7 linked regions of the Homo sapiens genome follow. The protein of the gene in region 1 purifies or fractionates together with the protein of each later gene. This does not show direct contact. Each region holds a gene or a part of one and is shown on either strand. Other genes may lie near its edges.

What was found.
Region 2: the proteins of BFSP2 (region 1) and ZNF521 purify together in Homo sapiens (affinity purification with mass spectrometry; one large-scale study listed by BioGRID and IntAct). This does not show direct contact.
Region 3: the proteins of BFSP2 (region 1) and ZZEF1 purify together in Homo sapiens (co-immunoprecipitation; one large-scale study listed by IntAct). This does not show direct contact.
Region 4: the proteins of BFSP2 (region 1) and CENPE purify together in Homo sapiens (affinity purification with mass spectrometry; 2 studies listed by BioGRID and IntAct, with this or other methods). This does not show direct contact.
Region 5: the proteins of BFSP2 (region 1) and NPR1 purify together in Homo sapiens (co-immunoprecipitation; one large-scale study listed by IntAct). This does not show direct contact.
Region 6: the proteins of BFSP2 (region 1) and SPAG5 purify together in Homo sapiens (co-immunoprecipitation; 3 studies listed by BioGRID and IntAct, with this or other methods). This does not show direct contact.
Region 7: the proteins of BFSP2 (region 1) and NPR2 purify together in Homo sapiens (co-immunoprecipitation; one large-scale study listed by IntAct). This does not show direct contact.

Annotation. Positions count from the first base shown.
Region 1 is NC_000003.12:133,448,556-133,452,055, forward strand, and holds part of BFSP2 (phakinin), read left to right. Parts: coding exon 1-90; intron 91-225; exon of another isoform or gene 226-340; intron 341-1,747; coding exon 1,748-1,909; intron 1,910-3,500.
Region 2 is NC_000018.10:25,342,167-25,345,666, reverse strand, and holds part of ZNF521 (zinc finger protein 521), read left to right. Parts: intron 1-319; exon of another isoform or gene 320-415; intron 416-3,500. UniProt on the Homo sapiens protein: Transcription factor that can both act as an activator or a repressor depending on the context. Involved in BMP signaling and in the regulation of the immature compartment of the hematopoietic system.
Region 3 is NC_000017.11:4,136,531-4,140,030, forward strand, and holds part of ZZEF1 (zinc finger ZZ-type and EF-hand domain-containing protein 1), read right to left. Parts: intron 1-3,500. UniProt on the Homo sapiens protein: Histone H3 reader which may act as a transcriptional coactivator for KLF6 and KLF9 transcription factors.
Region 4 is NC_000004.12:103,191,844-103,195,343, reverse strand, and holds part of CENPE (centromere-associated protein E isoform 1 precursor), read left to right. Parts: intron 1-110; coding exon 111-230; intron 231-659; coding exon 660-741; intron 742-902; coding exon 903-970; intron 971-1,049; coding exon 1,050-1,115; intron 1,116-3,500. UniProt on the Homo sapiens protein: Microtubule plus-end-directed kinetochore motor which plays an important role in chromosome congression, microtubule-kinetochore conjugation and spindle assembly checkpoint activation.
Region 5 is NC_000001.11:153,688,688-153,691,589, forward strand, and holds part of NPR1 (atrial natriuretic peptide receptor 1 precursor), read left to right. Parts: intron 1-265; coding exon 266-412; intron 413-500; coding exon 501-624; intron 625-765; coding exon 766-834; intron 835-1,017; exon of another isoform or gene 1,018-1,106; intron 1,107-1,118; coding exon 1,119-1,293; intron 1,294-1,596; coding exon 1,597-1,695; intron 1,696-2,902. UniProt on the Homo sapiens protein: Receptor for the atrial natriuretic peptide NPPA/ANP and the brain natriuretic peptide NPPB/BNP which are potent vasoactive hormones playing a key role in cardiovascular homeostasis.
Region 6 is NC_000017.11:28,582,026-28,585,525, forward strand, and holds part of SPAG5 (sperm-associated antigen 5), read right to left. Parts: intron 3,387-3,500; coding exon 3,294-3,386; intron 3,191-3,293; coding exon 3,077-3,190; intron 2,721-3,076; coding exon 2,627-2,720; intron 2,456-2,626; coding exon 2,308-2,455; intron 2,228-2,307; coding exon 2,125-2,227; intron 1,962-2,124; coding exon 1,828-1,961; intron 1,625-1,827; coding exon 1,486-1,624; intron 1-1,485. UniProt on the Homo sapiens protein: Essential component of the mitotic spindle required for normal chromosome segregation and progression into anaphase. Required for chromosome alignment, normal timing of sister chromatid segregation, and maintenance of spindle pole architecture.
Region 7 is NC_000009.12:35,798,091-35,801,590, forward strand, and holds part of NPR2 (atrial natriuretic peptide receptor 2 isoform 1 precursor), read left to right. Parts: intron 1-1,527; coding exon 1,528-1,641; intron 1,642-1,931; coding exon 1,932-2,067; intron 2,068-2,298; coding exon 2,299-2,393; intron 2,394-2,618; coding exon 2,619-2,751; exon of another isoform or gene 2,752-2,755; intron 2,756-2,979; coding exon 2,980-3,064; intron 3,065-3,500. UniProt on the Homo sapiens protein: Receptor for the C-type natriuretic peptide NPPC/CNP hormone. Has guanylate cyclase activity upon binding of its ligand. May play a role in the regulation of skeletal growth.

The sequences.
Region 1 (3,500 bases):
GATGAGGCTAATTTGACTAAAATGGACCTGGAGAGTCAAATAGAAAGTCTGAAAGAAGAACTTGGCTCTCTATCAAGAAACTATGAAGAGGTAGGAGGGGGCTGGGGTTGCTGGGTTGGCCACAAGACCAGAAGTTCACATCTGTCTGCCTGTGCTTCATAACAAGGCCACAGTAGCTCATTTCTGACTCTCCACATTGCGTGCCCAGGACTGCAGGGAACATACCTGTAAAATACTTTCAGATCCTTGAAGTGGGTCAGGTTACCCCAGCAGTCTCAAACTCAAATAGCTTCAGGAACCAGTGTGGTACAGAAACAGGGGAAGGCAGCCAGTCTTGGCACTAGCAAATGAGGGAACTTGTGTTAAATTAGAGGGAGCAACCCCTCCTCAATGCATTCTATGTCAGGTTTTTTTTTCAACACTGTATTATACAAACAAAACAACTCTGAGGGTAGATCCAAGCTGTGGTTGACATCTACTCATTAACAAAACTGGGTCAGATTATTGAGTGACAGAACTGAAGAGGACCTCCAACAGTTATGGGGTCTAGTTCCCTGCGAGACTTCAGCAATTCTAAACCACCTCACACATATTACTGTCTGATCCAAGATTTAGGCTGCTTCAAGTTGAAAGAGTCAAAACCCACTTAACGATGCTCACATTGGGAAGTTCTTTCTTGAGACCAACTTAAGCTAACCAGCAACTGTAAGCCCATTTCTTCTTGTTCTTAGCTCAGTGATTTAAGACTACTCTCCAACAGTAACCATTTAGAGATGCCAAAGTTATCTTTTAAGTCTCTTTCATCCTTGTCTGGCTTTATGCATAAATGCCCTGTGCTGTTGTTGCTTACTTTGTTTTTGTTTTTGTTTTTGTTTTATTTTACTTTAAGTTTTAGGGTACATGTGCACAATGTGCAGGTTAGTTACATATGTATACATGTGGTTTTTTGTTTGTTTGTTTGTTTGTTTGTTTGTTTGTTTTATTTTGATTTCTGCTTTGGGCCTGGGCTTGTGGAGACCAACCTAAGAAATGCATCCTTGGTGCTAGGCATGGTGGTTCAAGCCTGTAATCCCAGCACTTTGAGAGGCCAAGGCAGGGGATCACTTGAGCCCAGGAGTTCAAGACCAGCCTGGGCAACATGGTGAAACCCTGTCTCCACTAAAAATACAAAAATTAGCTGGGCATGGTGGTGTGTGCCGTGCCTGTGCCTGTAGTCTCAGCTACTCAGGAGACTGAGGTGGGAGGACTGTTTGAGCCCAAGAGATGGAGGCTGCAATGAGCTGAGATCATGTCACTGCACTCCAGCCTGGGTGACAGAGTGAGACCCTGTCAAAAAAAAGAAGGAAGGAAGGAAGGAGAGAGAGAGAGGAAGACAGACGGAAAGAAAGAGAGAAAGAGAGAGAGAAAGAGAAAGAAGGAAAGAAGGAAAGGAAGGAAGGAAGGAAGGAAGGAAGGAAGGAAGGAGGGAGGGAGGGGGAGGGAAGGAGGGAGGAAGAAAGAAAGAGAGAGAAGGAAAGGAAGGAAGGAAGGAAGGGAGGGAGAGAGGGAGAAATGCATCCTTGGGAAAAGAGAAATTACACTTACGCTGGGAAGAAGGTCAGGGACTTTCCCAGTCTCTGTGAAGCCTGTGTCTGGCAGTTGTGGAATGAGAAAAGAATTGCCCACAGAGCTGGTTTTCTGCTGGCTAGAATTCTATGCCATTTATTTCCCCCCGTAACTCATCTAAGATGTATATTGTTGTTTTCAGGATGTGAAGCTGCTGCACAAACAGTTGGCAGGGTGTGAGCTGGAACAAATGGATGCTCCCATTGGCACTGGTCTGGACGACATCCTTGAGACGATCAGAATTCAGTGGGAGAGAGATGTTGAAAAGAACCGGGTGGAGGCAGGAGCCCTGCTCCAAGCTAAGGTGAGAGGCAGGACCAGCATCCTCCACTCTGCCCTATGCAGAAGGAGGCCACGCTGAGCTGCAAACTAGTCAATGTGCAGACGAAGAAATAACAACGGTTTAGTAACAAGTTCAACCTCATTAGAAACAGAAGAAATGAAAATTAAAATAATAGCTTTTTGTTTACCTATCTAAAAGTAGAAAATGTTTAAAATGGTAAAAATGCTGGCAAGTATGTGGAGAAGTAGGTTCTCTACTGTATTACTGAAGAGCATAAACTAGTGCACTGCCTTTGAATAAGAAATTTAGTAATATGCACCAAGAGTGTTAAAATGCCCCTAGCTACCAACTGAATAATCTGAATACAATCCTGAAAGAATAATTGAGGCCGGGCGTGGTAGCTCACGCCTGTAATCCCAGCACTTTGGGAGGCCAAGGCGGGCGGATCATGAGGTCAGGAGATCGATACCATCCTGGCTAACAGGGTGAAACACTGTCTCTACTAAAAATACAAAAAATTAGCCGGACGCATTGGCAGGTGCCTGTAGTCCCCGCTACTCGGGAGGCTGAGGCAGGAGAATGGTGTGAACCTGGGAGGCGGAGCTTGTAGTGAGCCAAGATTGGGCCACTGCACTCCAGCCTGGGCAACAGAGCAAGACTCTGTCTCAAAAAAAAAAAAAAAAAAAGAATATTTGAAAAAATAAATCATCTGTGTCCAAATATACTCACTGAAGCATTATAAGAGTGAAAAAAACATACACATTTACTAGTAGAAGAAAATCTAAGCCACAACCTACCTATGTGCAGTAAAATATCAGGCAGTTATTAGAATTAATGTTTATGAAGCATTTATAAAATAGGAATGTGTTCATAATATGAGGTAAAATGAGGAGAAAATGAGAGTACAGAATGGTATATGCCAGAAGCCAAAAAATATTCTCTGTAAAGGACCAAACAGTAAATATTTCAGGCTTCTTGGGCCAGATGGCCTCTGTTGTAACTCCTCAGCGCTGCCACTGCAGTGTAAAAGCAGCTGTAGCCAATAGGTAGCTAATGAGCATAGCTGTGTTCCAATAAAACTTTATTTACAAAAATAAGCGGTGAGATGGATTTGGCCTGTGGACTGCAGTTTGCCACTTCCTGGTATATACAGTAGGGTAAAGCATTCAAACAAAGAAACTAGGCATTGAGAAAAAATTTTAGAAAGAAAAGACTAAAATGGGATTAGCAGTCGTTGCCTTTGAGTGATGGATCAGTCTGACACTTTGAGATGTTTTTTCTTTTTTGTTTTTGAGTATTTCTCAAGTTTTTGTTAAATAGTATACATTATATTCATGGAAGAAAAACAACTTTTATTAAACCTCATAAATAATACAGGAATTAACCAGAAAATAGGATGCATAGGGTTTGTTCTTCCCTTCTCCATCTCCCACCCATTTCTGACTTTGTAATCTTGAGACAGAGGATGAAAAGTGACAAGGAAGGAAAATGTGGAAAAGTAGAGAAAATAAGGTAGATGTCTGAGTTAAGGCAAAAGGCTGTTTCTGAGCTCTTGATTACTATTTAGTGGTTCTTGATCCTGGCTACGCAGCAGAATTATTTCAGAGCATTT
Region 2 (3,500 bases), on another chromosome or scaffold:
GCTAGTCAAAGTTCCAGAACTGATGGTCCAGTGAGTCTCTTCCAAAACGCCGGTTTCACGATTTCAGCACTTCTGGCAGCATCTTCCTAAAGTGAGGGCACACAAATTCATAAGATTCCACTTGGCCTTAAAAACAAAAACATCTGTTTTATGCATGAGTGGATTGTTGTCTTTTATTCATCCAGCCAAAAAAGGACAAAAAATAGGATACTGAACATAAAAGCATACATGTAAAAATGAAATTACAAAGGGATTTGAGATTAGCAAGCAGCCTTTTATAAAGCAAGCTGTTAATAATTTTTCTTTTTTGTTTTGCCAGAGTATTTCCATATCCTTTAAAAACCACTGTAGTTATCCTTACTGACAGCAGTGACGTCTAACAGTGATGACAGAATTTTTCAACTTTTTGCTTCCGGTAATTATACTTAGTTCTTTGTACTTGCTTATTTGGTCTAGTGCAAGACTCGTAGCATATTTGTAGGAGATTTCTTTTCACCTTAGAGGAACATTTGTACCTGCCTCCCTCTATTTTTAAAGGAGTCTGTTTGTGAGGGCTCGTTAGTCTGGTAAATTCTAGTTAAATACTTGTTGACATAAGTTGAAGCATATTATTAAGTATACTTGCTTGAGTTTTCATTTTGATGTAAAAGCATGTAATAAGAAGAAAGAGGTTTTGATAGTAGAAAAGAGTAGGTCTACTAAGATCAATTAAGAATTTTATTAAGGGTCTCTTTTTCCTATTAATGTGTTTTATTAATTCATCTGTCAGGATTCACATTGCTGGTTTACTGTCATTAATTCTGTTGCCACAGAATACATTCCTCATGGCTGGATTTAATGGATACTATGTTCAGTTTTTCAGTTAATTTTAAGAGGGAAAGTGATTTTAAGACTTGCAGTATTTGTTTATTTTAGCAGCTGTCTGCATCATTAAAAATGTAAATATTATCATTAAGTAAGATGTGAAAGAATGCTTTTGAATTGAATGAGATTTTGATACAAAGGCTGATATTCCACGTCAAACCTGTAGCTAAGTATTTTCCCAGATGTATTTAATTTTTTTCTTCATTGACTCCTGTTGTGCTGTCAAAGGTTAAAGTTAGTTCTAGGGGTGGGGGAGATGCATGCAACTTTCTAATTCCATTTCAATTAAATCTGAAATGTTCCTGTTTTTTGTTTGGGGACTACATGGTGCTAGGATTGCATATACCTTGTTTGTTGTAGTGAAAGCGTACTTGTCTGATTTAAAATATGTTCTGCAACAGTGTTATTACAAAGCAATTAAAACTTAAACATTAAAGTTAACATTAGTAAATTTAAATAGCTCTGTTATAGTATTAATCAAATAGTGTAAGGAAAGCTTTTAAATGGTTTAAATAATTATGCAACTCCTGGCATAAAAAGCCCGACACAAGATAAATCTCTGAAAACTAAGTAGAATCGCAGCTTTTTTTTTTTTTTTAATAAAAAACTTTAATTTTAGGCACCTTGGGCTTTTAGCATGCATCACATTCCACCTCTAGTATAAGTAATTATGCCAGTTTAGTAATTATTAGAGATGAAAGAAATTCAGTAAGATATGAATTCTTTAAAACTTCAGTAGCTTCAGTTTTAGCAGGGATAATGATCAAGCAGCAGTTATCCTGCTGCCTGGGGACCCTGCCACAGCTACAAGCACTGGGCTGATCTTGTGGGTATCATTATTATGGCAGCACATACTATAGTTAGTATTTCTACTCTAGTTGTCAGATTGCAGAGGTTTATAATTTGGTCATTAAACAAATTTAGATTCCAATATGACTGTGTAAAAACTCCCCTTTCTTAGAACACTTTTTAAAAAAAGATTAAGTTTAAAAATTATTATTTTGGGGCAGCATCTCTTTTAATTCTATGGGATAGTAAATGCTTTGAAAAATCCTGAAAAGAAAAAAAATGTGTATGCCTGTCATTTTTATGTGTGTATGTGTTAGGTACGTGTTCATTTTGAATCTTATTTTTAAATAAAGATGATTTGGTTTGGAAAGCATATATACTATTCCCGCATGATCATAGCTCTCCCAATCTGAGCAAGGTCAAGTGATTGACATTCAGAATATTTGTTTTCATAATAGTGCAGTTTGTTGGATTTATATTTCAATATTTTGGTTATGATAATTTTTTTGTATATGTGAAACCCAAGAGTTTACGTCCCTCAGTTATCACAACATATTGTGACACACACATACATAGTCTATATACACGGAAACATACTCTAAACCTTCTGTAGGAAATGCACTTTGTTTAGTAAGTCCATATAAGTGTTAATAATGTTTTAAGGGAAAAATTGGATTTTTTTCCAATTAAAATTGGTGTCAAAGAATAAGATTTCCTTTTTGAAATTAAAATCAGCGTATCATTGAGTCTCATTATTTCACTGACTTTATTACCTTCTCTTTCCATCTTATGATTGGCTTTTTCTCAAAATTTATTATCCCATCAGTATACTGTGAAGGATATGATATGTCAAGATGGAAACTTATTTACCTGATAGGGACAAAATCCTCATTGATTACAGACAGTTCCATATATTCATACAAAATACATTTGTTGAAACCTGTAGTGAGGTGAACAGTCCACACAGTAAACTATAACTTGCCATATTATAGGAGTTTCTGTGACCTGGAATCTAAAAAATATCACTGTGCTTTAAACTTTATATTGACTTCAAGAAACAATTTCCAGCATTTCATACGTGTTCTTAGCTAATATTCTTATCTTTCACAATAGAGCCAGATTAGGTCCAGTTAGTGCTTGAATAAGACTACATATTAATTGCTTTCAGCATTCCTAATGATTTAGGTTGTCTTAGTTGTGTTAAGTTTATCAGACATATGCTTTTTATTACCACTATCAGCACCTTTTGTCTTTCATTGATTACTTTTATACATTAAGAAAAAGAAGGCCAGGCGCGGTGGCTCACGCCTGTAATCCCAGCACTTTGGGAGGCCGAGGCGGGCGGATCACGAGGTCAGGAGATCGAGACCATCCTGGCTAACACGGTGAAACCCCGTCTCTACTAAAAATACAAAAAATTAGCCGGGCGTGGTGACGGGCGCCTGTAGTCCCAGCTACTTGGGAGGCTGAGGCAGGAGAATGGCGGGAACCTGGGAGGCGGAGCTTTCAGTGAGCCAAGATGGCTCCACTGCACTCCGGGCTCCAGCCTGGGCGACAGAGCGAGACTCTGTCTCAAAAAAAACAAACAAACAAACAAAAAAAAAACAAAGGAAAGAAAAGGAAAAAGGCTGTAAAGTCTTCACAAACATTGATCTACCAAGTACTAATGAAGCCAAAACAGAATCATTGCTTGAATGCTGATGTATGGAGTCTGAAGTTCCTATACATAGGGGGGTTTGGGGTTGTCAGTGTGCAACTTGCAAAGTTGTATGATGTTTTGCAGACATGAGGCAAGGGTTAAGAAGAACTGTGGGCTCAAGGGAGTGCATATTAATTCCTGGAAAGAG
Region 3 (3,500 bases), on another chromosome or scaffold:
GAACTAGAACTTGCTCACAAGCAGGCTGGCTCGAGGCCCAGTTCCCAAGCTCAGTCTGAAGAACAGCAGAATGAGCAGACTCATAACACGGCAAACCCGCTGATGCCATTACAGGCTAATTACACACCCGTCCAGGTTGCTATGAAAGGGGTCCCTTTTCGGGGGCAGAGAGGGGGCAGCTTGCAGGCAATGAGTACCAAGGTCCCAGCTGGTTCAGACTGTAGGCTAGGTGCTAAAGGATCATTCCCAAAACGTGCCATGCCCTCTCACTCCAGTATATCTGCATATGCTGTGCCTTTCATACGGCAAATCCCTTCCTTCCTTTGCCAGGCGAATTCTTCCAGCCTCTCAAGCCTTGTTGTGATGAAGCCTTTCTCAAACTCCATGCTGCTGGTAACTGCTTCTCTGTGGTCCCTGAAACTGGAGTGGGCTTAGGATGGAGCAGGGAGCAGACAGGAGGAGAAGGAGAGCAAAGGACAAAATTCCCACATACATGGGAAACGGGACCATAAAGTGGCTGCTTAAAGAGCACTGGGAGACAAGGGTAGAAGGTATAAGAGTGTAAAGGCTGCTCCACCATTCAGATGTGATTCTGAAGGCAATGGGGAGCCACTGAAGTTTCTAAAGCAAGGCAGTACCATGGTGAGGTGGTATTTTGGAAATCAGGGAGAGACAAAAGAGCTGTGGCCCTTCCTCCATAGCTCTCCTAGGTCATGAATTTCTCCAAAGAAACCAATACCATTAACTCCCCCATAGCAAAACACACAAAGCCAAAGTAAGCAAAAATAATCTCCACTCGGCCAGGTGCGATGGCTCATGCCTGTAATCCCAGCACTTTGGGAGGCCGAGGTGGGCGGATCACAAGGTCAGGAGATCGAGACCATCCTGGCTAACACGGTGAAACCCCGTCTCTTACTAAAAAACACAAAAAATTAGCCGGGCGTGGTGGCAGGCGCCTGTAGTCCCAGCTACTCAGGAGGCTGAGGCAGGAGAATGGTGTGAACCTGGGAGGCGGAGCTTGCAGTGAGCCAAGATTGTGCCACTGCACTCCAGCCTGGGCAACAGAGACTCTGTCTCAAAATAATAATAATAATAATCTCCACTCACCAAGGATCTTTCCTGTACTGCCTCATCACCATCCACAGCCAGCCATCCCTTACCAAAGACCTCCTGTGTACAATGGTAGTGCAGGCAGGTGGCTGGCGGCCTCACAGCCTAGTTGCACAGCAAGGCCAGACAGTATGCTCTAAGTGCCAAAGGATCTGTACAGAACAGGTAACAGGAGCCTCAGCTGTAGGGCTGAAAACACCATTATGGAGACACTATCTGAATCATGCCACAGAAGATGTGGTGCTGACCAGGTGACAGTGCCAAGGTGGGGAATCTTCAAGAACTGATAGCAAGGTCCATACACAGGACAAAGGAGGTGTCCCACTAGCCAGCACAGGGCTCATGCGGGGGTAGGGGGAAGATAAATTAGGTAAGGGAGTTAGGAACAAAGCAGGCATCCCACTAGCTAGCACAGGGCTAGTGCAGGTGGGGGAAAGGTAAATTAGCTGAGAGAGTTAGGCTGATGTGTGGGCTTCAACCGATTCAGACAAATACATATTTGGTCCCTTGGGTAGTGGAGAGCTGAGGGCTCCCGGCTGAAGGCAAGAAAAGCTGGCAGCCTGCTGTTGCTTTATGGTGCACACACACAGCTCTTACAGTCAATAGTCTTAAAAGGGCAGATAATCACATCTGCAGATTCCTACGGCACAGTTCCTGGGCTCAAAGCCATTCTAAATTAGTTGATTAATACTTTTCACATAATAATATGAAGACGAGCACAGGGCTTTTCTACAAACTTCCTGTAAACCCGAAAGTGACTAAGAACCTTTTAAAGTTTTCACAAAAATCATATTTAACCGTTTCCTTCAATGTCAAGAAATATTAAAAGGTTACAGACTGAATATAAAATATGAGGTTTGAGTGTGTGTGGACTACAACTTCTACAGTCTCCCAAAGCACCTGGGCACTGGCAACCACCCAGGACTGTGCTAAGACGATGAACAGAGATGAATCAAAAAGGCCCTTCCCTTAGAGCTTACCACCCCACGAATTTCACAAAGTAGGCACCAAAACTATGTGGCAAATTAATAAAACACAACCTATTCATATGAAATTTCACTTTAGGGCCATCTGTTATCCTGTACTCAGCACGTTTTTCTGCCCTAGAAGATTTTCTAGAATCATACTCTAAGAGCATAAATATCTAATCTATAACCTCTGATGTGAAATAAGAACTTAATTTTAATTCTATTTCCCCTCTACATGGCAGTTAATTAAATATTGCTCCTTGTGAGCAAACTGAGAGAGTCCCTTCTCCCTGGACCACACCTACCATGAGAAAAGGTGTGTTGTACTATAAAATGATAATGTTTCAGACTTTGGTCCATGGTCCAACTCCAAGAACTTCTTTATAACACCTCCTCAAGTAACTGAGGTCACAGGAATGTGAAAGCAAGACAGCTGCGTGGACACCAATGGCAGCTAAGTTAGGAAGCCAAAGAAGAAACATGTAACACTTGGAAACTCTCAGCATTATAATAAACCATGCGCACCTTCTCCCTGGACCACACCTACCATGAGAAAAGGTGTGTTGTACTATAAAATGATAATGTTTCAGACTTTGGTCCATGGTCCAACTCCAAGAACTTCTTTATAACACCTCCTCAAATAACTGAGGTCACAGGAATGTGAAAGCAAGACAGCTGCGTGGACACCAATGGCAGCGTAAGTTGGGAAGCCAAAGAAGAAACATGTAACACTTGGAAACTCTCAGCATTATAATAAACCATGCGCACCCGTGGCTATCTGTTTTACCATGTTAGCTCTTATAAAAACGAATGACGGAAACAACTTGTCATTTTAGTTGCTACTATAAAGACATTACTTCACAAGCCCTTCATCTTGCAGTAAAATACAGCAGTATATTCTCAAAAGCTTAGACGTAGATTAACAACGCAGAATTAACTGTGTAAGTATGCACAAAAGTATATACTTATTCAAGTCTAAGGATAGACATTCTTAAAGCACAGAATCAAATGCATGGCTAAATCTTATCTTCTTTGGCTAGTCCTAACTTACTAGTTCTTACAGACAGAGCAGCCATCACAAGATTATCATGAGAGACGGTGGCCACTGTGAGATTATCACAATCAGGTTTTTAAACCTTGGCTAAGCCTCACTCACAGAACTGTATGACCTAGCTATGTGAATCAAAGACTGCCAAATATAACTCAATGTTTTCTCTCCCCTTCCTCAATAATTAAGCCCTGAGTTTTAGCTGAATATATGGCCACGGAAAAAGAATCTTTCCCAGCCTGTCCTGCAGGTAACTGCGGCCATGTGACTGAATTTTGGCCTGTGGGATGTAAGCTATGCCCGTAAGAGAGTGGGCATGGCTTCTTCCTTCTCCTTCCCTTTTCCCTTTCTTGCTTGTTGGAATGTGGAAAATG
Region 4 (3,500 bases), on another chromosome or scaffold:
TCTTAGTTTGTTTTACATACATTTTACCTCTTTAAGCACATGAGCATTTAGCATTAGGTTTTCACAATTGGATGCTTCCTGGTGTTTTTATATAATTTTTTTTCTTCTAGTTTCCTGATAGGGAATTTCTCTTACGTGTATCTTACATGGAAATATACAATGAAACCATTACAGATTTACTCTGTGGCACTCAAAAAATGAAACCTTTAATTATTCGAGAAGATGTCAATGTGAGTAGCAGACTTAAGGGAGCTTTAAAATTGACTGACTTATTGAGATTATTGTTCTTGAATGTTTACCTTTAATTTCTATAGTTTTTAAAGTGTCTCCTATTTCTATAGTATGTGAGGGTTTTTTTGAAGTATTTATATTCATCTTTTAAACAATATGAATAGTTTTAAAATACTGACAGCTCTAATATTTTGGTTTAAGTGTAAAAATAGCAAGTTGGAAGTATCAGGTTAGAATTTGTTGTGCTTTGGTATGTGAAATAAATTGTGGGTATTCATAGAATTATTTGTTACATTCCTACAGAATTATGGTTCCATTTGCCACTTTTAACTTTCACAAATGAATTCTATAATAGTTTGCACCTTCTTTTGAAAAGCAAACTTGTGACTTCTATTTCTCTAATCTTTCCATAATTAAACTTGTTTCAGAGGAATGTGTATGTTGCTGATCTCACAGAAGAAGTTGTATATACATCAGAAATGGCTTTGAAATGGATTACAAAGGGAGAAAGTAAGACTTTATGCTGTATTTCTTTAGAACACTTGTAAAAACTATCTTTTCAATCAAGCACGTTTGGACCTCAAATCATACTTTTTTAAGTTAAAATAAAAATTATTGTGTTTCTATGGATTTTATTATATATGCAGCTGAAATATAACTCATTTTTACAGAGAGCAGGCATTATGGAGAAACAAAAATGAATCAAAGAAGCAGTCGTTCTCATACCATCTTTAGGATGGTAGGTAATTCTATCTATCTGTTAGATCTTTCCAAGTAAGAATGCACTAATTTTTCTACAGCTTGCCTTTTCTATCTAGATTTTGGAAAGCAGAGAGAAGGGTGAACCTTCTAATTGTGAAGGATCTGTTAAGGTATCCCATTTGGTGAGTATTAATGAACCATAATAATGTACTGTATGGGCCAAAACAAAATTTAATTTAGTTGCTGGATGTTTGGTTTAATAAGAACTGTTAACTAAACTAAATGTGGGAGGAAATCTACAAATTGTCTGCTTAGTCTTGTCAGTATCATCAAATTCCTAGCTAAAATGTCGTAGGAAAAATTCAGAGGATCTTTCTTCCTGTTATGTCATGGTTGCCATCTCCTAAAATTTAAATGTCAGGGCTATAGGGTTATAGGAATTGATGTTTTTTCTAACCACTAATGCAGTAGAATTTTTTTCTATACACATTTAACACTTTAGATCATCTTAGAATTTGAGGGTCTTTTTGTAAAATCTCAGCCAATGTAATTTAGACTTATGTGATCAACAAAAATCTAGGTTGGATGGTTAAAAAGTAATCACATTACTTTAGGTTTTACTTAAGTACAACAATAAAATATATTTTGTATTGTAAACGTAGTACTTTAGACTGTAAATCCATTGAGGAGTGATACTGCATTCATCCTGGTAGCCCCAACACATTATACCTATTTTATGTCTAATATAGATTTGCTGAATAAGCGAATATATGCATTATGCAAACATTCCTATATTCCACATTAGTAAACCTTCACTTCCTTCTTTCCACACTAAATTATTGCTGTTTCTTTCTTGCTCCTTTTCTATCTTTTACCATATTGCTTTATTCTGCATTTTTAGGGCCTAAATTCTTTAGCTTGATGTGGGATATGATTTAAGATTATTTGATTAGAAAACTTCAGGGAAAAAAGCAATCTATAATATGTTTATTCATTTTCAGATTTTATAAAATTAGATTATTAATTACTTAATATTCAATCCTAATTTCACCTTAGCTATTTTGCTATAAAATTGTATAACTTATTTTAGTAGACTTTAATCTTGTTTTAATTTAACAATAAAAAACCAAACCCTAACCTCTTTAGTTTTCTCATCCAAGACTGTGATATTTCATATAATTTTAACTTTTAATAATTTAGCTTTAATACTCTTGGCATATTCAGTGATCTACTTGATGATTTTCCTCATGTTACGTGATGCTCTGTCATTTGTGTTCCATCTGTTCCAACCCTCCAGCCTACCCACTTACTCTAAGAATCTTCTTGGAAAGAAGTCTCTAAAGAGTCATCTCTGTCTCTTTAGAGGTGGCTCTTTTCTGATTATCTCCTGGCCTTGGTGGGATGATAATATCCAGTTTCTCTTAGCTGTACTCCTCTGTTTTCTACCCTGGCTTCTTTTTCCCTACCCTCCTAAAAAAATAATTAAAAAAAAAAAAACTTGGAGGTATTCTGTGACGTTTCTTACTCAAGTTCTTGCTCTCAAATGTTCTGTCATCATTTCCATGTTGATGACTGCCAAATATTTTACCTATAGTCTCTGAATTCTAATTCATGTCTTCCTAAAGATGGTTATAATTGTGTCCCATCATTATCTCAAACTTTAATATGTCTAAAACGAAACTATTTTCTTCCTACCATAGTGAATATTCCTTATTTCCAGTAAAACCAGCATTATCCTAGCTGCCTAAGCTGGAAACCTAAGTCAATTTTGACTCATCTTTTTCTGCCTTTCTCTTTGTCCACTTGTCCCATTTCTTACTGATCCTACCTTTAAACATTTCCATGGGTGCTACACTCATTTACTTTCTCATCTCTCTTGAATTACTATGTCAGTCTCCTGGAACCTTGTCTCCATGACCCTTGTCTTTGTTTCTTGAAGTCATCATAAGGATTTCGAATATACTAACCATTGCTTTTGTATATCACTTCCTGGGGCAAGATTTGGCCACTCTTAACCAATCTAACTTTATTTCCTTCTGCTCTACATGAACTCCTCCCTCATAGATTGGGCCTCTGAGTATCTTTGAATATGAATGCTTGTTCTCATCTTTAACCTTCACTCATGCTGCCTTCATTACCACTTTGCCCTTTTATTATGTATCTGTGTCATCTGTAGTGGACACTGTGCAAGAAAAATTAGCCTCCTTAACTGGTAATACATATTTACCTGCCTAGTCTCAAAAATCTCCACAGAGAGAAATAACGTAAAGCTTTGACTTTCTTTCAAATCACTCACAATATTTACTAAGTTGTTATTGTCTTCTGAGCATGGTGTTGGGCTCTGAGATTAAAAAAACAATAAACAAGACACCCCTTCACTGCTTCTCTTACAAGCAGTCTCCTCTGCCACCTCCCTAACCCAAGCTGGTATTATCTCTCACCGAGATTCCTGCCCCAGCTGCCTGATGGGGCTGCCTGCAGCTGCTCTTGCCCCTTCCCAATCCATCCTCCACCCAGTAGTCATAGTGGATCCATTGTGAGAGTCATTGCTGAGCTTTATGCAAGGT
Region 5 (2,902 bases), on another chromosome or scaffold:
CCTCCTTCTAACTCACTGGGTTCAACAAAGATGAACAAAATGTCCATATGTCTGAAGCTTCATACTTGACCTTGGGGTCTCAGAAAAGAATTGAACTTTCTTCCTTCTGTTTTCCCCTGCTCCCCGGTATCCTGCTATGCCCTCAACCCTGAGCGTCTCTAGAGACCTCACTGCAGTCTGGAGGGGGAAGTGCCTAGGGGCGGGCGCTCACGGTAGGCTGTGCTGCTCCTCTCTTACCACCCCCACCGCCACCCTCTGCCCCCAGGGAGAACAGCAGCAACATCCTGGACAACCTGCTGTCCCGCATGGAGCAGTACGCGAACAATCTGGAGGAACTGGTGGAGGAGCGGACCCAGGCATACCTGGAGGAGAAGCGCAAGGCTGAGGCCCTGCTCTACCAGATCCTGCCTCAGTGAGTGCCTGAGTCTGGGGACCCCCCCCAACACAAAGCCCCTGTCCCGACCCCCAACTCTGATCCTGCACCTGCCCTGACCCCTTAGCTCAGTGGCTGAGCAGCTGAAGCGTGGGGAGACGGTGCAGGCCGAAGCCTTTGACAGTGTTACCATCTACTTCAGTGACATTGTGGGTTTCACAGCGCTGTCGGCGGAGAGCACACCCATGCAGGTAGGCCAGGGTTCAGCCACAGGTGCCAGGCAAGCTCAGCATCTGGATCCCACCAGACCTGCCTTCTGGTTCTGCTTTACCCACCTGACCCCAGGTGGGGTCCCCTACTTCCTGTCTCTCTTAGCTTCTCTTCCCTTCCAGGTGGTGACCCTGCTCAATGACCTGTACACTTGCTTTGATGCTGTCATAGACAACTTTGATGTGTACAAGGTGAGGGTGGGAGTGGGGATGGGAAGGGACAGACAGACATGGACAAGGTCAGAAAAAGATGAGGGGTAGGCAGAATGATGTGGAGTCTTAAGAGAGGAGATCGGGGACACGGGCAGAGACAGTGACACAGGGAGACCCGGGAACAGGCAGAGAACCCATGTGGGATGGGGGATGAGCAAAGACAGATGAGGGTACAGAATGACAGACGCTGCACCCGGTGTGACGGTGTGGCCGGCCGCACAGTTGCAGCCGTCAAGTCCTGCACCCCCTCGCCACTCCCACAGGTGGAGACAATTGGCGATGCCTACATGGTGGTGTCAGGGCTCCCTGTGCGGAACGGGCGGCTACACGCCTGCGAGGTAGCCCGCATGGCCCTGGCACTGCTGGATGCTGTGCGCTCCTTCCGAATCCGCCACCGGCCCCAGGAGCAGCTGCGCTTGCGCATTGGCATCCACACAGGTAAGGCCACTGAAGGTGCAGGCGGGCATCCAGAGGCCAAGGCTTCGCAAGGGAAACTTGTCCCCTGGCCCAGCCCCTCGCCCTTTCATCTCTCTCTCTCTCTCTCTCTCTCTCTCTCTCTCTCTCTGTCTCTCTCTCTCTCTCTCTCTCTCTCTCTCTCTCACACACACACACACACACACACACAGAGCTGGGACCTCAGATCCTGCCTCCTGCCTGTCTTGGATTGTCCACCTACCTCCCTTAACACCCCTCCCTCCCTCACTCGCTGATGGGCTCTGCTCCTTCCCTTGCTCCTCCCAGGACCTGTGTGTGCTGGAGTGGTGGGACTGAAGATGCCCCGTTACTGTCTCTTTGGGGATACAGTCAACACAGCCTCAAGAATGGAGTCTAATGGGGAAGGTACAGTGCCCCCTCCTAGAGGGAATGGGGAGGGCAGGGTGGCTGAGGGAAATGCCATCCTGGGGCAGCCTGTGCCTGCACAGCCCGTTTCAGCTCCTAGCCCTTTCGCCTCCCAAGTTCCCCTTCTCATAATATTAAGAGTTCAACCTGGGCTCATCAACTTGACTGTAACCAGAGACTCAGGTTCCTGCTGCCCCTCTTGTCAAACGATGTAAAAGTATTTCCGGGCCAGTGCTGGAGAGTTCCCAGCAGGAATCTGATTTTAAGACCCTCTGTGGGCCGGGCGTGGTGACTCACACCTGTAATCCCAGCACTTTGGGAAGCTGAGGCAGGCGGATCACCTGAGGTCGGGGGTTCGAGACCAGCCTGACCAACATGATGAAATCCCGTCTCTACTAAAAATACAAAAAACTAGCCAGGTGTGATGGCAGGCTCCTGTAATCCCAGCTACTTGGGAGGCTGAGGCAGAAGAATTGCTTGAACCCGGGAGGCAGAGGTTGCGATGAGCCAAGATTACACCACGCACCCCAGCTTGGGCAATAAGAGTTAAACTCTGTCTCAAAAAAAAAAAAAAAAAAAAAAAAAAAGACCCTCTGCTCCACCTTTGATGTGGTAAAGATGGCTTCAGAGCCAGCATAAGTGAGGCTGTGAATCTCAGCTCCACAGCTGGCTGTGTGTCAGTTTGCTATACCTCTCTGAGCCATGGTTTTCCTCATCTGTAAAAAGAGGGAAAAAATCTATCTCACAGGAATTATGTGAGAAACCCATTAAAAATGTCTACCACATAATTGTCATTTAACTTTTCCAAGCCTTAGCGGATTATCTGTAAAATGATGTCTATCTCAGGATTGCAAGAAGCCTAGCACAAACCCTGGTACCCAGCAGGCACCTAATAAATTCTTACTCCTACCCGCCCCTTGCTCTTGCCTCCTGTTTATCTTCTATCCTTCTGCTGTATTCGACACAATTCAATGCAGTAAACATTTATTGAGTGACTACTGAGTGCCAGGCCCTGGGATAGTAACATGGCCCAGATCCAGAGTTAGCTGAGAAATTCATGTGGACCCCATCTAAACCTTATGGTGAAAGAAAGGCTGCTTGGGAGCCAGTCCTGGGAGCCCAGAGGGATCTAGTTCGGCAAATATTCCCTGGGCACTATTTTGGGGGCTGTCAGAGTACAGCCCCTTGTTGAGGGTCCAGTCCTCAA
Region 6 (3,500 bases), on another chromosome or scaffold:
GGTTCTACTGCCTCTGCTTCCTAAATATCTATTGAATCCATTCACTCCATCCTCTCCTTTCTACTGCCTATAAAACTGCCATTATTTCAAGCCTTCAAAATCTGGCCTCCTGCCTACTTCTCCAGTGTTGTCTCCTGCCTTGCCCCACAGAGCTCTCACGCTGCAGCCATGAAGAGCTGCTTCCCATTCCTCAGACTTGCTGCATTCCATATGAGCAGCATCTTGCCTTGTTCATCCTCTAGTCCCAGCACCTAACCCAGGTTTTATAAGGTAGACACTATAAAAAAGAACACATCATGTACTATGTGCATGACTTTCTACGTACGACTCTCATATGTAGTCAGATGAAACTTTCATACACCGTTCCCTCTGCCTAGTGGGACTTCCTAAATACCCTCCCCTGCCCCACAAACGTCTAAACCTCAAGACTGTACCCAAGGTCAGCTGCTTTGAGAAGGCATCCTAATTCTCGAAGGCTGAAGTGGTGCTCCCCTCTCTATCTCTCACAGTGGTCCATGCAGACCTCTACCATGATCATAAGTCAAGATGACAAGTTTACATCTGTTTGTCTTCCATGCTAAACTGTAGATTTGATGGCATTTCCTGTGCTCGGTACCCAGTTGGGGAAGAGGATCAGGTCATAAGCAATTGCCAGATTTTAGGATATTTGTTGTGCCTTATCTGCTGAATAAGCTAATTACCTTTGTATTCTGAATGATGTCAACCATTTATTGTTTAGTGCACACTGCAGGGAGGCCAAAGAAGGCTATATTTCTGCTTTCTTGAAACATAGTCTGGTTGAAGAGACCAGGTATCCAAGGAAAATTAATACAAATACAAAAGAAGAGTAAGTTCATGAGAAATATGGCAGAAGAAAAGATCACCGGGTCCACATGATTTGATTTGGGAACAGTTCAAAGAAGGTAAACCAGGGAAGATTTCTTTTTTTGTGGGGGAAAGGGTTTCACTCTCACCCAGTTTGGAGTGCAGTGATACAAAAAAATTAGCCAGGTATGATCATGGCTCACTGCAGCCTCAACTTCCCAGGCTCAGGTGATCCTCTCACCTCAGCCTCCCAGATAGCTGGGACTACAGGTTCACAACACTACACCTGGGCTAATTTCTGTATTTTTTTGTAGAGATGGTTTTCACCACGTTGCCCAGGTCGGAAGGGAGGATTTTAATAGAAAAGGCATTTCCAGTTTGAAGAAAGAATAGAATGAATGTGGGAACAGCCAGAGTCTGGGTTCTGGGGATAAAAATGGGGACATGTGTGTAGCATACAGGCAGTCTAGCTGGGGCAAAGTGTTCATAATAGGGAGATAGGAGACAGGGGAAGAAAGGTTTGAGCAACAGGCTAATGAGGTCCTGTAGGTAACTGAAATCATAAAAGGTCACAGTTAGAAAAAGAGTAATGTTTTAGGAAGACTATCTGTAAAATAAAGATACAATTGGAAGAGAAGAGAAGGAACCCCAGGATCCTACCTTCTCCTTTAGTTTTGTCTGTAGAAAGAGAGTCAGGCTCTGTAGTTGCTCAGTCAGCAGCCCTAGCTTTTGAGAGTACTGCCGTGTTTTCTCCAGATCTTGCTCCTGGTTATCTGCTATGGTGCTGGCCAGTTTAGCCCTGAAATAAGGAACAGGGAAGATGACCAAAGACCAAATTACCTTCTCTGAACGCCTATCCCAAATCCCCACAGAGCTGCATTAAAGGAGAGAAACAAGAGGCTCAACACTCACAGTTCTCTTCTTGGAGATTTTGGCTTCTAGAAGTGTTCCTGAGAAAAAAATAAGCACTTAGGGGGAAGTACAGAAAGTTAGAGAACTTACGTTAGGTTCTCTACAGTGTCCTTGAGGTTCTCACACTGCAAGCTGCGCTCCCGGAGCACTTCCAGTGTGGTTTTCAATTGACACTCAACCTGACCCAGCTCCAGGTGAGCAACCTGATTCTCCTGGTCTGCAAACTGGGAAGACAAGAGAAGGAGCAAGACAGGGAGGGAGAATTTTAGTGCCCTGGGTACAGAGGCTTTTTCTAGTTCACAGTCTCAAACCTTACCTCAACACTATCAGGCAAGAATCACACTCCTGAGGCTTACCAGCTCCCTTGGCCCAAGCCATATTCCTTACCTCCAAGGTCTCTTTCAGGTCCCGCACCTCTTTGGCCAGGACAGCTTGTTGCTGCTGCAGTTCTGCCTGCATGTGTTTTAGTGCCATCTCTTCCTTTTGCCATCTGCCAGAGACAACATATTAGATCCCATTTGGTCCTAAATCCTGGATGCCTACTGCCACAGTACCCCGTTAGGAACTCACTGAGCAGCCTGCTCCTCATTGCTCTGGGTAAGCTGGCAGAGTAACTCATCCTTCATAGCCAGGTCCTGGGCACAATGGGTATGCTGACTCTGTAGCTCTTTTAGCTGGCTGTCCATGTTGGCCAGAATCTGCAACTGAGCCCGGAGATCTAGAACAAAAGTATCCTAATGACACCATGCGGTCAGCAGGCTAGAAACTCCCCAAACTTCTGCTCCAAAGCAAGTGCTCCTGAGTACTTCCTTGCTCTAGTGCCACACTCCAAGCCTTAACAGGGCTCAAATGCTTACATGCATGCATACACACACACACACACAAACACCTGTTGCTAGACGACTGTTTTCCAACTCCAGTTGTTCTGTTTGGCCTTTGCACTCCTCTAACTGGGCAGAGACTTGTTCCAGCACCCTAGAAACCTAGGAAGAACAGATGGTTTTCCTCCTATAGTTCCTCCTGAATCAATAATCCCAGGACTTGGTCCAGCTTCTCTTTCTGGACAAGACAGAAAACTACCTTGCTCCTGGGCATCAACATTGCAGAAAATAAGGTTGATCCTCAGGAAAAAGTAGAGACAGGAGAAAAGTTGCTGAAGTAAAGATGCTGAAGGGCAAAGGAAAAAACTGCGCTTAAGGCCATCTTACAGCTAAGAGACCTTACTGGCTGGCCTCCAAACCCACAGGGTGAAAAGAAAACAGATCCAGGGTAAGAGGCTAATGGTATCACACATTAGGAAGGAAACCAAGCCTAAGCAGTCCCCACTCTTGGTTTGTACCTCCTGCTTTTCCTCAATTGCCACATCACGTTCCTGCAGGGCTTGCTGGCTCTTGACTGTGAGTTTCTCTGTGAGTTGTCGGGACCGACTCAGCAAAGCTGTCCATGTTGTATACTACCAGGGGAAGCAAGCAGGTCAGTAGAGCACACTTGAGGCAAAGCTCACAACAGGACTTGATGTGAGTAAGGAATTAGTTATGATGGTCCCAAATACTCACATCCAGTTGCATGGACCTCCAGTCTTGTTGCAAGGTAGAAGTAAGACTCACTGTCTGCTGAACCAGCTCTTCTTGCTTGGCATGAAGCCCTACCTACAAAAGAAAGATTGCCTAGGCGGGAACCCCTTCCCTTTGGATACAGCAAAGTGGGAGTATGCAACTACCCTCCCAGTCTGTCAGCACAGACCCCAGGAAAGAAAATGCCCT
Region 7 (3,500 bases), on another chromosome or scaffold:
AGCGATTGTGAGACCAAAAGTTTGATAACTGCTAGCCTAACAAACTAGCCAAACTTAGTGTTGAGAATTAGTGTTTAAAATGTGTTAAAAACCTATCATCAGCCTTTATTGAAATATAAATTGTGTTGAACCTGATCTTTTCTCGCCCTTTTCCTGACTTTTTACATTGCTTGTCAACAATATTCTACCTCTTTATTTTATTCTTGGAACAGGTGCTACTGAATGAACTATTTCAACCCTTTCCTCAATTCCCTTCTCTTTTTAAAAAAATTTTACCTGAGACTGGGAGAATGTTAGAAGTGTGTAATCAGGCAGCTAAATGCTCTAGTAAGAATAATGATATCTTGAGGCAAGCTGCAGTCTAATATAATATAATGAATGCATATTAGAAATCGACTTTATTATTTCCTATCTCTAATGAATTGATACATAATAGGCCATATGTGATGTGTCTAGTGCAGCGTATCTCTATGGTCCACATGTACTTTCTATGACAAGAATAAACAAAACTGGGAGAAATGACCGGATTTTAAATTATCATTTCACAAAGTCATGTTTCATAAAATATATTGAACTGAAGTCTTTCCTTGAAGTTGTGATGCCAGTTTCCTGTTGGAGCAGAAGTTGGTCTCAGTGACTATGTGGCCTGAGGCAGGGCCTGAGACTGGGAGGTCCAGCAGCTCAGGAAGGGGAAATGTGTGAGACTAATGGGAGCCAAGCAGGCACTTTGGTGAGAGACAGAGATGCTGACTCATGCGCCAGTGAGATGTGTGCATGTCTGAGATCACATGTGTCATTTGCTTACCTGTGAAATGTGTGTGGGCATGTGACTGTGTGTTTGTCCCTGTGACACATCTATTACTCAGTAAGCAGGACAGTGCTGTTTGTGGTAGGTGTTCCACACATTAAATGGATGAGCACACAGCTTTTCACAGGTGGAATCACTGTCTCAAAGTATTTCCCTCAGTTGTCATAGGGCCTGAAATCTCTCTAATTCACTGGGCGGAGACACTGTGTTCAAGTGGCCGAAATGACAATGTTAGTATTTTACTGATGACATTAACAGTGATTAACATCTCAGAGAGGAGCTGTTAGTGGGTGTTGTCCTTGATCATAAGCAGATACCCAGAAAGCATGGGACAGAGGAGCCGTGTGAGCTGTGGTGGCCTGGCAGGAACCTGGATGCTGGAAGGGAGCTCTGGAAGATGTTGGGCTGGGCTTTGGGGATGGGGTTGACTATTATTTGCCAGTTTCCACCTTCCCAGAACCAGTCCTATCTACCTTTCAGGAGGAGTGCCACTCCCTCTTCCCAGATGTATGCAACACAACACACACACACACACACACACACACACGCACACACACACGCAGAGAGAGAGAGGTTAGTAGCCCTTTCAAAGCCTTCAGACTCACCTGTGTATATTTTATATCATGTATATTTTACCAAGTTTCCCTGTCCTGCATCTTCTCTTCCCATAATGCCTATCTTGAATCCTGTTCACTCTTCCCCATATGCTGCTGGTACAGACTGTATTGGTGATCACGTACCGAGAACCCCCAAATCCTGAGTATCAGGAATTCCAGAATCGTCTGCTGATAAGAGCCCGGGAAGACTTTGGTGTGGAGCTGGGCCCTTCCCTGGTAAGTAGATCTCTCCCTTCCTGAGAGTCAGGTCAAGCTTTGGGGAAGGGCTTCTCTCCCAAACTCAGCATCAAGTCTTGGCTGTGGAGCAAGCCCAACTTTGGGGGGTCTCCGCTTCTGTCCAGGATTTTTCCTTCTGCCCTATGGAGTAGTTAGGAAGGGATGGCACTTTAGGAATAAGAGGGAAGAAAGCAAACCAGAAGAGAGAATAGGTAGAAGGGAGACCCCAGAGAGAGGGGAAGGGGCCTTGCAGGACATTTGGAGAGTACTGCTGAAGTTGCCACCCCCAGATGAACCTCATCGCTGGCTGCTTCTATGATGGGATCCTGCTATATGCTGAAGTCCTGAATGAGACAATACAGGAAGGAGGCACCCGGGAGGATGGACTTCGAATTGTGGAAAAGATGCAGGGACGAAGATATCACGGTAATGAAGAGGGGTCAATGGGGGTCTGAGGGCTGATGTCAGGAATAGAGTGGGCTGAAGAAGAAACAGATGTCAGGATCACCACAGCTTTAGTGGGGGTTAGTGAATATGGCAGAGTTGCCCACACCTCAAGATCGGGGAAGGGTAGACTCTGAGGGAGCCGTAGGCATGAGTGAGTGGGAGAGGAGCCCAGGGTAGACCTCAAAGAAAGGACACTCTTTTCTGTCTTAGGTGTAACTGGGCTGGTTGTCATGGACAAGAACAATGACCGAGAGACTGACTTTGTCCTCTGGGCCATGGGAGACCTGGATTCTGGGGACTTTCAGGTGATGGAGGAGGAGGCAGGGAAGAGAGTGTGGCCCTGCAAAATCCAGCTTTCAAGGGTTCAGTCGGGGCAGAACCAAAACTACTAGATGAGGGATTTGTTTTCTCTGCTGGCACTGCATCCTGGCTGGGTGGTAGGCTGGGGAGAAAAGCAGCGAAACAGCTGGGGTCTGGGGAGGAGGCTGGTGGGAGCAGGCCTGTGGGCCCAGCTTTTTGCTTCCTTACAGCCTGCAGCCCACTACTCGGGAGCTGAGAAGCAGATTTGGTGGACGGGACGGCCTATTCCCTGGGTGAAGGGGGCTCCTCCCTCGGACAATCCCCCCTGTGCCTTTGACTTGGACGACCCATCCTGTGATAAAAGTGGGTGTGTGCAGGGACTGGGAGCAGCTTTCCTCCCTTTGCTTTCCATTCATGGCCTCCACCCTCACTGACCCTCCACTCTTAACTGTGCTTCTGCCTTTACGTCTGCATCCCTCCCTCCTCATTTCTTCCTACTCCCAAGGAGTCTGTCTATGCACCTATGCACCCCGTTCTCCATTCTGCCAAGTCCGCACACAGTCTTCCTCAGGGTCTCTATTTCCCCTTCAGCTCCACTTTCAACCCTGGCAATTGTGGCTCTGGGCACAGGAATCACCTTCATCATGTTTGGTGTTTCCAGCTTCCTAATTTTCCGGTGAGTTCTGGGTTTCTTGCTGACCTACTCCCTGCCCCCATTGCCACACAACCTCTGGCTGAAGCCAGGTGGTCCCTATAATGTGGGATAGGGTAGTAGGTTTCTTAATTTGCTGGTTGTCTCTTAGATCCAACAGCGTCTTCCTCTCTAGCCTTTCTCTTTAGTTGTCGCTTAGCCTAGGTGTTTGTTCCACTTTTGGTCCTAGACTGGATATACTAACTAGTGTTTTTCAGTGGGGTTAAGATCAAAGGTGAATTTTCCATTGGTCTTCTTTTAGGAAAGAACTTTCACCCCCAGTCTCTGTGTTTGTTAGTGAGCATAGGGCATGTGCCAGATATGCCGAGAATGCAGCCTTATCTTCCAGCCCTGTCTCTCAGGTGTAACAGTTGCAGCTTCAGGAGCTGCAGGGAAGCCCCTGCAACCCTGCTGTTGGCTT